2 linked regions of the Homo sapiens genome follow. The protein of the gene in region 1 purifies or fractionates together with the protein of each later gene. This does not show direct contact. Each region holds a gene or a part of one and is shown in the gene's direction. Other genes may lie near its edges.

Region 1 (3,919 bases):
TGGGAACTGGGCCATGCTGGAAGGTGAGAGCACGGGTGCAGGCTGCCCTTGGGGGTCACACCCAGCGCGGTCCCCAGAGAAAGCAGAAGCACACACTGTGACCTGCCCGGGGTACCTGGTGTGCAGATAAAGAGGGAGAGTAAGCGTGTGTCCCCATCCAGAAGGCGGGGCAGGGCAGGAGGTGGGTGACGCACAGCAGAAGAAGGAGCCCCCCATGGGAGTCAGGCTAACGAGAGCCACTTAGGAACCGGGGGCTCAGGGTCTGAGCACCTGCCTTCAGAGTTGGGCGTTGAAGGTCCCCAGGGCAGGGCTGGCAGCTGGTGGCTCCCAGAGGGAGCTGGTGCTGTGCTGCCTCATGCCTGGTCCATGGTGTTGAGGGAATTGATCCCACTGCAGTGGGCGTCAGTAAGTGCAGGGCCTCACTGGGAGGTTTAGTGGGGGTCTAGCCAGAGGCCCCGGGGGTCTTCAGGAGGCTGAGCAGGGGCAGGATGGTCACTGTCCTGACAGGAACACTCAGCTGAGGGGAGGGAATCTAGCCAGCAACTCCCGTGGCTGCGGCTGCAGGAAGGAGAGCAGCCAGGCTGAGGGAGGAGCTGGACGAACATTTTCTACCCTGCCTTCTGGGGACACGACACACTGTAGTTCTGGGTGCGTCGTTGTGCCAGCACCTTGCAGTCTTGGAGGTGATGGTGTCTGCAGGATGGATTAGCCCAGCATGGAATCCAGGTGCCTCATTCACGACAAGAAGTTGCTGCTCTGAAGTCTTGCAAAGCTAAACCCCACTGCAGTGAGCACTGAGGTTCCTTGGAGCTCTGGAGGGATTCACACTGAGGTCGGAGGAGTTTCCGCTGATTGGGGCCCAGCCGCCTTCTGCCAGGCTCCCCGAGTGGCGGCACGCTGGCTCTGCCTCTGAGGCTTCTCTCCCTCCTGCTTTGCTTAGGATGTTGAGGGTTGAGACGGGCAGGGTTGGGCCCCCCAGCGTGGTTGGGATCTGCTTTAGGAACACTTCAGAGTGGGCCTGTCACTGGCTGTGTCAGGGACTGCAGGCGGCAGTGCTCATGGCCGGGCATCTGCAGTGCTCATGGCCCCCGTGCTCTAGGCCACGGACAGCATAGACCTGTTGAGTGTCACCTTGCACAACAGTCTCAGGCCAAAGCCTGGGCTCGCTCTCCTGAGATGTTCCATAGATAGAGCAGCCTGTTCCCGGCGCAGACTTGGGGGCCTGCGTTGGGAGAGGGACCGGGGAGGGCTGCTGCTAGAGTGTCCCACAAGCAGCAGAGTCGCTGGAGGGGCGGGGAGGCTGCGCCACCTGCTGGATGGGCAGGCTTCAGGCAGTCGCTGGTGCGCGGGTTACCGGCTGGGCCTGTGGTTTCCTGGCCAGGCTGAGGCTGTCTCCGTGTGCCTGTGGTCAGTCATTGCCCCCAATCCTTGGCACTTAGATAAAGTAGATGAAATCCGTGTCCATTCCCTGTGGCGGCAGAACATGCTATCCCACACTCGATGCCTTAAGGCACCCCACCCTTACTGTCTCACTGTTGCTGTGGGTCAGGGGTCCGGACTCAGCTGAGCTGTGTCTCTGCAGGTGGCCATCTCAGCTTCACCAGGCAGGGCCCGACTTCACTCAGTCTGGGTTGTCGGCAGGACAGGGGGCCTCTCTGGCTGTTGGCCAGAGGCTGCTGCTCCTGGTCCCCTGCCACCTGGGCCCCTCCACAGGGCGGCTCATGGTGCAGTAGTGGCTTTCTCCGGGCGTGCAAGCAGAGAGTGCTGGCGGGGTGGAGGCCCAGCCTTGGTGCCCTGGTTTCCATTACATTCTTTCATCTTTGCCCCGTTCTGTTAGTAGCCAGTCCTCAGGTCCAGCCAGGGTGTGGGTCCCAGGAGGTGGGCACCGTGGGGAGCCGTCCCAGAAGGCGCCCCCCACGGTCCACCGAGGACTCTGGGAGTCACGAGGTAACTCCCTGCTGCAGGGGGCCCGCTGTGGTGGCCGAGTCCCATGTTCCTGCCCCACCTGGCACCTGTCCTTGTTCCCCCATCACAGGCTCTGCCGGCGCAGACGCCAGCTTCAGCAGTCTCTACAAGGCCACGTTCGACAACGTGACCTCCTACCTGAAGAAGAAAGAGGAGAGACTGCAGCAGCAGCTAGAGAAGAAGCAGCGGCGCCGGAGTCCCCCGCCTGGGCCCGACGGGCATGCCAAGAAGATGAGACCGGGGGAGGCGACGCTAAGTTGCTGATCGTGGCGGTCAGTGGTGTCTCTCACCTCAAATTAGGAAAAGCTTTTTAACTTGTTCCCCTGCATCCTGGCATGTCCCTTCAAGAAGGAAAAGGTGACATCAGTTGTGACCAGCTCAGAGGATGGGGCTGTCCCCTGGGCTCTAGAAAGAACATTCTGTGTCACCAGCACAGGCTCTTGCTGGGTGCCTGTGCCCCCTTTCTGGTTGAAGGGAAGCCAGACCAGTGGAGTGGAAGCTCTTGAAGCACTTTCTTTTCATGTCGGAGGCTGCGTGTGAGCCGGTGGTGGCGGCAGCTGTCTGTGTTTCTCCTGTTCTCATACCGCCCTTCGTGTCCGCTGCATCTTCCTCTAGGAGCATCTGTGGGCTGACGTTTCTGGCATGGTGGATGTTTTCATGTTGTTCCGCCGTCTCAGCATCCAGGTGACGTGCTGTCCCGCAGTAGCTGCTCGCCACACAGGCTGTTGAAACTCAGCACGAATGCTTGAGCCTGCCCCAGCCCCAGCCGTAGCCCTTGTGCTCAGGAGCTGCTCCTGGAGAGTGGCTCCCTTGTGGGAAGTGAGAAACACGTTTCGGAGTCGCAGGGAGCTCTGTCTGGCATCGGTGGCACAGATGGTGAACTTGTTTCAGGAAGTGTGAGCACGGGCCTGGCTGGCACCCGGTTTACAGGGAGGTGATTGAGGACGTCGTTATGATTTGATTTGACCTTGGCACACACTGCAGAGCCACAGGGATGTTGCTGAATTTCAATCACCGATCAGCAAGGATGAACCTTCTCAACTTCCTAGGAATGTTTAGCAGCAACCGAATATACCAGGCAAAACTCCTTGGTGCCTGCGCTGTGTGTGTGTGAGGTGCGCGGTGTGATTGTGCGCTGTGTGTGTGTGAGGTGCACGCTGCGTGATCGTGTGCTGTGTGAGGTGCGCGCCGCGTGATCGTGCGCTGTGTGTGTGTGTGAGGTGCGTGGTGTGATCGTGCGCTGTGTGTGTGGTGCACGCCGCGTGATCGTGCGCTGTGTGTGTGAGGTGCGCGGTGTGATCGTGCGCTGTGTGTGAGGTGCACGCTGCGTGATCGTGTGCTGTGAGTGAGGTGCGCGCCGCGTGATCGTGTGCTGTGTGAGGTGCGCGCCGCGTGATCGTGTGCTGTGTGAGGTGTGCGCCGCGTGATCGTGCGCTGTGTGTGTGAGGTGCGCGGTGTGATCGTGTGCTGTGAGTGAGGTGCGCGCCGCGTGATCGTGTGCTGTGTGAGGTGCGCGCCGCGTGATCGTGTGCTGTGTGAGGTGCGCGCCGCGTGATCGTGTGCTGTGTGAGGTGCGCGCCGTGTGATCGTGCGCTGTGTGAGTGAGGTGTGCGCCGCGTGATCGTGCGCTGTGTGAGTGAGGTGCGCGCCGCGTGATCGTGCGCTGTGTGTGTGAGGTGCGCGGTGTGATCGTGCGCTGTGTGTGAGGTGCACGCTGCGTGATCGTGTGCTGTGAGGTGCGCGCCGCGTGATCGTGTGCTGTGTGAGGTGCGCGCCGCGTGATCGTGTGCTGTGTGAGGTGCGCGCCGTGTGATCGTGCGCTGTGTGAGTGAGGTGTGCGCCGCGTGATCGTGCGCTGTGTGAGGTGCGCGCCGCGTGATTGTGCGCTGTGTGAGTGAGGTGCGCGCCGCGTGATCGTGTGCTGTGTGAGTGAGGTGCAGGCCACGTGATCGTG
Region 2 (4,007 bases), on another chromosome or scaffold:
AGCTTAAAAAAGTTAACTTGTCAATAAGAAAGCTGGTTGGTCTGAGGTTCAAACCATATGTCTATGAGCTCCCAAAATCAATGCTCCTTTGTATGTCTCAAAGCACTGTACACAGCTGGTGCTTAATAGTTAAAATCTTCTATCACCCCTCCCCATTTGACTTGATAACTTAGGAAGGTAAAAGGCATGAGGCGGCTTTCACAGCTGTGGGACTTAGCTCTTGTTACCTTGGGCAGTTGTACAGATTCCTACAACCTGTATTTCAGGGTCGAAGTGAAAATATTTGTCTATCACTGAGTGTTTTGTATATTTATGGCTCTCGATCAAGAGATTATGTGTCAATGATAATAATCAGCTCTTGGCTACATTTCAATTTTTTTTCTTTTATTTTACTTTTAAGTTCTGGGATACATGTGCAGAACATGCAGGTTTGTTACATAGGTATACATGTGCCATGGTGGTTTGCTGCACCTATCAACCTGTCAGCTAAGTTTTATGCCCCGCATACATTAGGTATTTGTTCTAATGCTCGTGTTTTCTTTTTTTCTGAGGCAGTCTCGCTCACTGTAACCTCCACCTCTTGGGCTCAAGCCATCCTTCCGCCTCAGCCTCCATGGTAGCTGGGACTACAGTCGCGCGCCACCACGCCCGGCTAATTTTTTAAAAAAAATTATGTAGAGATGGGTCTTGCTATGTTGCCCACTCCAGTGGGCATCCCAAAATGTTACTGGCATCCCAAAATGTTAGGATTGCAGATATGAGCCACTGCGCCTGGCCTTTTTTAAAAAAAGTTTTATCCAGTGACAGGCTGGGCTATACACTTAATGTCTAAAGGTTTTTGCCTTTCAGTTCATATCAACGCGAGTAGAGTTAGCTAGCTATGTTTGTAAACAATATTCCGATATGCTTCGTTAAAGTAAGCCGATATTAAACATTTATATAAATCCATCCTCACAGGGTCAATCTGGAGATAAACTCACCGCTGCAGGGGGCGGGGAAGGAGGTGGGAACACGCTCATTGACAACTTCATTTCCATGAGAATGGTTGCTGTGGTGATTGCTGCGTCTTCCCATTGGTCATTGCCGAGCGTATTGCGGTTCTCCGGGAGGGTTATATTGGTTCCCATTCCACAGCGGCCGCAACGTGTCGAGAGCCGTAAGTAAAGTGTCGCAAAGCAGAAGGAAGGCGGGAGTCCCGACTGCAAACATTGAGGAAAGCCAGGCAGTAGAGGCCGCTATGGCGAACGTTCCGTGGGCAGAGGTCTGCGAGAAATTCCAGGCGGCGCTCGCTCTGTCGCGGGTGGAACTGCATAAAAATCCGGAGAAGGAACCATACAAGTCCAAATACAGCGCCCGGGCGCTACTGGAAGAGGTCAAGGCGCTGCTCGGCCCTGCGCCTGAGGACGAGGATGAGCGGCCTGAGGCCGAGGACGGCCCGGGTGCCGGTGACCACGCCCTGGGGCTGCCGGCTGAGGTGGTGGAGCCCGAGGGGCCCGTCGCCCAGCGAGCGGTGAGGCTGGCAGTCATCGAGTTCCACCTCGGGGTGAACCACATCGACACGGAGGAGCTGTCGGCGGGGGAGGAGCACCTGGTGAAATGCCTGCGGCTGCTGCGCAGGTACCGGCTCTCGCACGACTGCATCTCTCTCTGCATCCAGGCGCAGGTGAGAGCGAGCCCGGCCAGGCCGGCCCCTGTTGGCAAATGGCGAGGGATGGGGAGGAGCCCCTGCCAAGGCCAAGGGCAGACGTTGTAAGGCGCAATTCGTCCCCACGTTTTTGTAGCTCTGGACTGAGTCCCAAAGAGCGTCTGTGGTCTTCAAAAAAGCCAGTCTTATGGACTTATTGCCTTGTAACTAGATCTCCCACAGTCGGCCGTCCCCAGACTCCGTGTCCACCCTCGTCGCCCACACCAATATCGCTTGCTGCTGCTTCACTTAGACGTGGCGATGCATTGGTGTCCGAGACCCTCCTACATCGTCATGCGCTTTCCTCTCCACCAGTCCAACTCCTGTTCATTCTGTTAAGAAAATCCAAAGTAATTTAAATCTTAACGTCTCAAGGAAATGACAATGACCGGAGTACATTCTTTTTTGGTTTTGTCTTGTTTTTGTTTTTTTCTTAGAGATGGGGTCTCACTGTGTCGCCCAGGTTCGAGTTAAGTGGCACCATCATAGCTCATTGCAGCTTCCACCTCTTGGGCTCAAGCAGTCCTCCTGCCTCAGCCTTCATAGTAGCTGGAACCACAGGCGCATGCCACCATTCTTGGTAATTTTTTTAATTTTCTGTAGAGATGGGGGTCTCACTATATTGCCCAGGCTGGTCTTGAACTCCTGGACTCAAGTGATCCTTCTGGCTCACCTTCTCAAAGTGCTGGGATTACAGGCCTGAGCCGCTGTGCCTGGCTCGGAATACATTCTTAATTCAAAATAAAATGTCCAAAATCTGCAGCTTCCTTTCTTACCAAATTCATTTGTTTGCATCTTAGGGAATTCTTCCCCATTCTTGAAAACCTATCTCAAGAATCACTTCCTTTAGTATTAATAACTTTCTTGGGACCATTTTGGGCCAAACTGATCTCTCCCTCCTACCTTTGAATTCTTATAATACTTTTTGTTTCCCATTTATATGGTACTTGGTTTCTTAAATAAATCTGGGCAGGGCACAGTGGCTCCCATCTGTAATCCCAGCATTTTGGGAGGCCGAAGTGGGAGGATGGCGTGAGGTCAGTAGTTCAAGACCAGCCTGGGCAACAAAGTGAGACTCTGTCTCTTAAACAAAACAAAACAAAACAAAAAACCCACAAAACTAGCCAGGCATGGTGGTACACGCCTGTAGTCTTAGCTACTGGGGAGGCTAGGTTGAGCTGGGAGGATCACTTGAGCCCCTGGAGGAGCCATGATCATGCCACTGCAACTGCAGTCTGGGTGACAGAGCAAGACCTTTTCTCAACAACAACAAAATCCACATCAATATTCTAAAGTAATATTGGTCAACACCTGTGAAAAGAAGGGGTGAAAAAAAGAAAAATACTTTAAAAAGTTAAAATAATATTGGGACAGGTGAACATGGATGTTTATCACAGCAGTGTTGATTATTAAAGAAGGAAAATCGCAGGGCTGAGGCAGGAGGATCGCTTGAGCCCAGGAGGTCAAGGCTGCAGTGAGCCAAGATTGTATCACTGCACTCCAGCCTGTGCAACAGAGTGAGACCCTGTCTCAAAAAGCAAAGAAAAGGAAAACAATATAAATGTCAGTAGGAATATGATTAAATTCCGTTACATCCAAACAGAAGAACAGTACACAATTATTAAAAATAATAATTTATATTAACAAAAATTGGCAATATGAAGAGGGAGGAAGAAGACTATAAGCCATATTTAGAATTATGTAGAAAAGGCCGGATGTGGTGGCTCACACTTGTAATCCTAGCACTTTGGGAGGCTGGGATGAGATGATCACTCGAGCTTAGGAGTTCAAGACCAACCTGGGCACATAGTGACACCTCATCGCTACTAAAAATAAGAAAAAAAAATTATTCCAGGCATGGCTGCTTTGCTAGGCAGTATGTTCTTTGGGCAGCCATCGGGGCCCCAACCACCACCGGGGCTCTGGGGCCAGGCTTCCTTTACTTACCAGCAGCTCCAGGGCCTCTGAGACCTTCTAACAGTACTTTGGTGGATGACATGGAGTCATCTTTCCAGACTTGCTTTGCCTCTCCGTTAAGTCAGGACTATGTCAATGGCAGCAATCAGGAAGAAATTGGAACTGGTGTTGATCGGTGTATACACAAGTTTCTGGATATTGCAAGACAGAATATTTCTTTCCTACAAAAAAGATTGCAATTATCTGTCCAGAAACCAGAGCAAGTTATCAATGAGGATGTCGATGTCTCCGAACTAAGAAATGAATAACATTGGAGACATGCACTGGTCCAGAAGCACTTGACAAAGCTAAGGCATTGGCAGCAAGTGCTGGAGGTCATCACGTGCAGTACAAAAAGCTAGCTGAC

Evidence for each region.
Region 2: the proteins of WDR4 (region 1) and KIFBP fractionate together in Homo sapiens (co-fractionation; one large-scale study listed by BioGRID). This does not show direct contact.

The regions. Positions count from the first base shown.
Region 1 is NC_000021.9:42,848,359-42,852,277, reverse strand, and holds the end of WDR4 (tRNA (guanine-N(7)-)-methyltransferase non-catalytic subunit WDR4), read left to right. Parts: coding exon 1-23; intron 24-2,035; coding exon 2,036-2,229; 3' UTR 2,230-3,052; downstream 3,053-3,919. UniProt on the Homo sapiens protein: Non-catalytic component of the METTL1-WDR4 methyltransferase complex required for the formation of N(7)-methylguanine in a subset of RNA species, such as tRNAs, mRNAs and microRNAs (miRNAs).
Region 2 is NC_000010.11:68,987,596-68,991,602, forward strand, and holds the start of KIFBP (KIF-binding protein), read left to right. Parts: upstream 1-1,207; 5' UTR 1,208-1,237; coding exon 1,238-1,663; intron 1,664-3,532; exon of another isoform or gene 3,533-4,007. UniProt on the Homo sapiens protein: Activator of KIF1B plus-end-directed microtubule motor activity. Required for organization of axonal microtubules, and axonal outgrowth and maintenance during peripheral and central nervous system development.